Regions from separate parts of the Homo sapiens genome. Here region 1 is linked to region 2. The links come from fine-mapping of genetic effects on gene expression. A gene starts in region 2. The other region holds a variant in brackets. All regions are shown on one strand. Distances are from middle to middle. Region 1 overlaps SPG7 (SPG7 matrix AAA peptidase subunit, paraplegin). Region 2 holds the start of SPG7 (SPG7 matrix AAA peptidase subunit, paraplegin).

Evidence for each region. PIP is the estimated chance that this variant, and not a neighbour inherited with it, causes the effect.
Region 1: its variant is the best candidate, but not a certain one, in a credible set for the expression of SPG7 in whole blood (TOPMed, PIP 0.55).

The regions. Positions count from the first base shown.
Region 1 is chr16:89,542,056-89,544,895 of GRCh38, forward strand. It overlaps SPG7 (SPG7 matrix AAA peptidase subunit, paraplegin), which reads left to right. Exons shown (of 17, transcript NM_003119.4): 10 at 2,593-2,717. Among named protein-coding and RNA genes, the nearest start is that of RPL13, 17 kb to the right of the region's middle. The variant C/G (reference allele first, on the strand shown) is at 1,721.
Region 2 is chr16:89,506,839-89,509,736 of GRCh38, forward strand. It overlaps SPG7 (SPG7 matrix AAA peptidase subunit, paraplegin), which reads left to right and starts at 1,565. Exons shown (of 17, transcript NM_003119.4): 1 at 1,565-1,762. The coding sequence starts at 1,580. LOC101927863 (a long non-coding RNA gene) reads right to left here and starts at 1,482. Exons shown (of 5, transcript NR_188547.1): 1 at 1,399-1,482. RefSeq lists silencers at 879-948, 1,069-1,278, 1,349-1,908, 1,939-2,058.

The DNA of each region.
Region 1 (2,840 bases), 35 kb after region 2:
TGCCCCGCAGGGTGGCTGGGCTCTGCTGAAGGCCGAGCTGTGCTTGAACCCGGCGCCGCCCCCTCTAGGAGCTCGCACTGCACCTCTTTGGCCTGGCTGCTGTTTTTCTTTGAGACCGGTGTTCCTATTACTTTTCCCATTTTTTTCACTGTTTATACAATCTTTCAGAATTCTGTATCCACAGCCCTGGCCTCTGCAAGGAAGGCGCTCCACGACACTGAGCAGTAAGCCTTGGCAGGCCTTCCAGACAGCTCTGGAGGGGCCAGCTTGGGTCCCAGTCCCCACCCTCCCCAGCCTCTTGTTCCTCGTGTCATAGTGAGACAAGGCACTTGTGCTTCTGCTGCCTGTTTTTGTTTCTGAGTTTATTTTAAAAGTCACCGTGATTTTAAGACACTGTCTTTGCCTTGGCGAGGTGATTCTCTTCTGTGATCTCCCTTGTAGAAATGTGACTGGGACTTAGCATCCCAGCTTATCACATTCTGACGTGTGGAACCAGGGAGAATGGTTGTGTCTTTCAAAGTTTCTTTGAAATTCGGGAGCGATTTGCTTGGGAGTGGGGTGTGTCTTGGACTGAGCTGCTGTCCAGACCTGGCGGCTACGGCTTAGTGAGGCTCAGGACAGTGGCCCTGGAGAAGCTGGTCAGGCCCCTCAGCCTCCTCAGAGCGTTCAAGGTCCTGTCCTAAGAACATGGGGTTGCTGGAGCCAGGGTCTCACTCCATTGCCCAGGCTGGAGTATAGGGGCATGATCATAGCTCACTGCAGCCTTCACCTCCTAGGCTCACATGGTCCTCCCACCTTGGCCTCCCAACGTGCTGGGATTATTAAGGGTTTCTTACATTAGTCACGGTAGATCCTGCTCTTACATTAGTCATGGTAGATCCTGTTCTTTTTTTTTTTTTTTTTTTTTTTTGAGACGGAGTCTTGCTCTGTCGCCCAGGCTGGAGTGCAGTGGCGTGATCTCGGCTCCCTGCAAGCTCCACCCTTCAGGTTCACGCCATTCTCCTGCTTCAGCCTCCGGAGTAGCTGGGACTACAGGCGCCCGCCACCACGCCCAGCTAATTTTCTGTATTTTTAGTAGAGATGGGGTTTCACTGTGTTAGCCAGGATGCTCTCCATCTGCTGACCTTGTGATCCGCCCTCCTCGGCCTCCCAAAGTGCTGGGATTACAGGCGTGAGCCACCGCGCCTGGCTATATCCTGTTCTTACATTAGTCACGGGTCCTGTTCTTACATTAGTCAAGGTAGGTCTTGTCGTATCTTTACTTTTAACACTGTTTATTGTGGACCTTTTCCTTTTTTTTTTTTTTTTTGAGAGTCTTGCTCTGTCGCCCAGGCTGGAGTACAGTGACACAATCTCGGTTCACTGTAACCTCTGCTTCCTGGTTCAAGCGATTCTCCTGCCTCAGTCTCCCGAGTAGCCAGGATTACAGGCATGCGCCACACCCAGCTAATTTTTGTATTTTAGTAGAAATGAGGTTTCACCCTTTTGGCCAGGATGGTCTAGAACTTCTGACCTCAGGTGATCCACCTGCCTCAGCCTCCCAAAGTGCTGGGATTACAGGCGTGAGCCACCGCATCTGGCCACCAGTGGATTCTTTTTTTTTTTTTTTTTTTTTCCTGACGGAGTCTTGCCCTGTAGCCCAGGCTGGAGTGCAGTGGTGTCATCTTGGCTCACTGCAACCTCCGCCTCCCAGGTTCAAGCGATTCTTCTGCTTTAACCT[C/G]CTGAGTAACTGGGATTACAGGTGCACGCCACCACACCCGGCTAATTTTTTGTATCTTTTGTGGGGTTTCACCATTTTGGCCAGTCTTCTCTTGGACTCCTGGCCTCGTGATCTGCCTGCCTCGGCCTCCCAAAGTTCTGGGACTACAGGCGTGAGCCACTGCACCTGGTGGACTGGATTCTTTTAAAGCAAACCCATAGTTTTGAATCTTATATGCTCTGAGTACGTTTCTTTAAATTCAGAGAAACACCACAGCATCATAACACCTGAACGTTCTTACGAGCATCCAGTCAGGTGTTCCCAGCAGCTTCATAAATCTCTTTTCGCAGTTGATTTATTCACATCAAGGGCCAGTCAAGGTTCACATACACCAGGGATCAGTGATCGTTTCTGGACTCACTTTTAAATTCTCCGATGACAAACGTCAAGCCTGAAACCCAGGGCCTAGGGCCAGACGTTGAAGATAAAATGTTTCCAAGTCACAGCCTAAAGCTGGGTGTTAGCTAAAATGTTACAAAGTCACAATAATGATGACAGGGCGGTGGGGGGTGGGGGGTGGCTGTTAGGACCGGCTCCCAGATGGCACCGTGAGGCAGGGAGAGGCTCCAGGATGCTGTAGGAGCTCCCGGAGGGCCTTGGACAGTTCTGCTGTTTGCACTTGTCAAAATAGGCAAATTCCTGTTCCTCCTGGTGATGCTGGCTGGGAGCGATGGGGGATCGCGGCTCCTAGTTCAGAAGGACCGGGCTGTTCCTTTCTCTCTGGGCCTTAGGGGGGTCTCTCTCCCTCCTGTGTCCTGAAGGGGAACCTGCAGGGGAAATCTGTTGTGTCAGGACCCCTACCCTCAGAGCCACTGTCTGCTCTGTCCCCTCAGGAATGGGTACCACAGACCATGTCATCGTCCTGGCGTCCACGAACCGAGCTGACATTTTGGACGGTGCTCTGATGAGGCCAGGCCGACTGGACCGGCACGTCTTCATTGATCTCCCCACGCTGCAGGTCAGAGCCAGGATCCCAGCCTCTCCCACTCCACCTGGGCCGCCCCCACTCGCTCTGAGTGGTCTGGCCTCTCCTCTAAGACACTTCTTGGTGTGAAGCCTGTCACAGCCCCACAGGTGCTGG
Region 2 (2,898 bases):
GGGCACCGCGCCCGGCCCACCTGGTGTCTTTCAATCAGGGAAAGAAAAAATAGTGGAGGAGGAAACGGCAAGGTTGGATTCACTGCGAAGGCTGACTGTACAATAAGAAGCAAAAGGAAAAGCGGTTCAGTTGTGAAAATCAGTGTCAGCCCTGGGTGTAGGGGAAGGTCCTCTCCACAAACCAACAGAACACCTCCCCAGCCCCGAGCACCTCTGCCGAGGCACCCGGCCCACTGGAGGGCTGAGGGCGGATAACCACGATAACTGAAAACACTTTCCTGAGCGTCTCGGGGCTGAGGAAGAGGGAGGATTACACGCAGCCCACTGGCTTTGCAACCTCGTCTGTAGTGGTGGAGTGAGTGCAGGTCCAGAAACAAACCAGACCGGCCTTGAAATTCTGCCCTAACTTCAGAGCTGTAATCCTAGGCAGGTTACTTTTAATACTTCTGAATCTTTCTTTACATGTAAAATAGAGGTATTGTATTCGCTGCACAGGGTTGTGAATATTACATGGGTGTTCGACACGGAGCTAGGCACTCGGTGATGTTGGCTGTCGTCACTGGCATTCACTGTTACGAATTTGCGGAGTACAGAAAAGCATAAAAATAAATAGGTCACCCTCATCCTACCTCTGTGACAGACCATCTAGTCTTTGCTTTTCCTACTCAACAAGCTTTCCAGCTCTTGGCGTCAGCTCTAGACCTAAGGCGGACGGAGGAAGGGGTCGGGGTGGCGGAGGACCCCGCGCGCCTGGGAGCCCACGAGGGACCCTGCCCGGGCCCGGAGGGCGGACCCTGAAGAGAACAGAGCCTCTTCCTAAGCTTCCAGACGGCGCCTCCCCGCTTCCTACGATGGGCTCGCGCAGCGGCCGGGGCAGGACCGAGGCTCGAAGCGCCTCCGAGGTGAGCCAGTCCGAAGGCACAGGACGGAGCGCTCCGAAGTCAGAGGTGTGCGGGACGAGCTCTGCAGACGCCTGCCAGGCCGCGCCGCACTGCGCGCTCCCTCCCTCACGACCCTCCTCCTCCGGGGCTGCCCTCCCTGCGGCGGCTGCAACTTCAGTCCTCGTCCTCGGGCGGCTCAAGACGCAGGAAAACCGCCCCCTTCCTGCGCTCCTCACACCCGAAGGGGCCCTCCCGACCCGAGGCCTCCGGCGCCGCCCTCCTGAGCGCGGGCCTCTACTCGCAGGCGGGATTCCGGCCCGCACCATCCGCCCTCGCCTGTGACCGAACCCTGCGGGTGACGCAGGCTGCCCGGGCGTGAGGCCCCTCGGCGCGGGCGGAGCACGACCACGCAGCCACGACCCGGCCGGTTATTCACCCGCCAGGCCCTGGGAATACAAGGCCGGCTTCAAAAAAACCAGGGCACCCGCGACCTCCTCGCAGACGCGCGCCCCCATACCCGGGCCTCAGGCAGCCACGAGGTAGACGGGCTCAGGCTCGGGGGTGCGGCAAGCGGCACCCGGGCGCGGCGGGGCGCAGCTGTGGGGACCGCGCAGGCGCCACGTCAGACCCCGCCCACCCCGCCGCGCAGGCGCCGTGTAGCGCCCCGCGGATCACGCAGGCGCGGCTTTCAGGCCAACATGGCCGTGCTGCTGCTGCTGCTCCGTGCCCTCCGCCGGGGTCCAGGCCCGGGTCCTCGGCCGCTGTGGGGCCCAGGCCCGGCCTGGAGTCCAGGGTTCCCCGCCAGGCCCGGGAGGGGGCGGCCGTACATGGCCAGCAGGCCTCCGGGGGACCTCGCCGAGGCTGGAGGCCGAGCTCTGCAGGTAAATCCCCGCGGAGTCCGGGCCCCACCTCCCGCCCGGCTCTGCTCTGTAAGGCCCAGCCCGGCGGGGCGGGTCGGAGGCCGCCTGGCCCCTGCGGCGGGGGAGCCTGCGCCTGTGGGCCCGCGGATCCCCCAGCTGTGGACCTCGGCGCGGAGCGACTGTTGGGGCCCTGGATCGTGGGCGCTGGGCGGGCCGGGAAGAGGCAGGGCTGGGATCCGCGCAGTCCTCGGCGTGGACTTTCCCAACCCGTCTGTTGTGTGTGGATGTTCTCCGCCCGTCTTCCTCGCCTTTTAAAGTGGAATCCAGTAACGGTTTCCGGCGTAGCACTAATTTACAGTCCACGCCTGTGGATCGATTCCGTCACCAGGAATTCCAGCGCCTTCCAGTTAGGGTGGTTATTGCCGAGTAGGGGGCCCAGAACGTTTCTGTGTCCGCAAAATACCCTGTAGCTGCATTTTGCTGTTGTCATGTAGCTCGGCACGTTATTGATACAGTCATTGAGCACCCCCTGTAGTGCGGCCTTGTTTCAGGTTCTGCTAAGGATAGGATAGCATCTCCTCCCGAAAACCAGACCTTGTGTCCTTCAGCTTTTGGGCTGATGTTTTTTTCTCCTAGCCCTCGCCTAGGAGCTTAGCCCACACCTTTTAGGTTGTTGTTTTTTCGGTTATTTTTGAGACAGAGATCTCGCTCTGTCGCCCAGGCTGGAGTGCAATGGTCTTGGCTCACTGCAACCTCCGCCTCCCGGGTTCAAGCGATTCTCCTGCCTCAGCCTCCTGAGTAGCTGGGATTACGGGTGCGCGCCACCACACCCAGCTAATTTTTGTATTTTTAGTAGAGACGGGGTTTCACCATGTTGGCCAGGATGGTCTCCATCTCTTGACCTTGTGATCCGCCTGCCTCGGCCTCCCAAAGTGCTGGGATTACAGGGCGTGAGCCACCGCGCCCGGCCATAAAACATATTTAAATGGGAAAATGTTTATCTTGAAAGGAGAACTCTGAAAGTATATACTTGTTAACTGGTTTGGTACCTGGAAATGTTCTACAAGGAGCCACTCTCTGGTGACAGCAGGAGCCCCGTGTCTGGGCAGCCACTGTGGCCTTTGGAGAGCTGGGCTGCTCCCTTTCTCCTGCAGAAG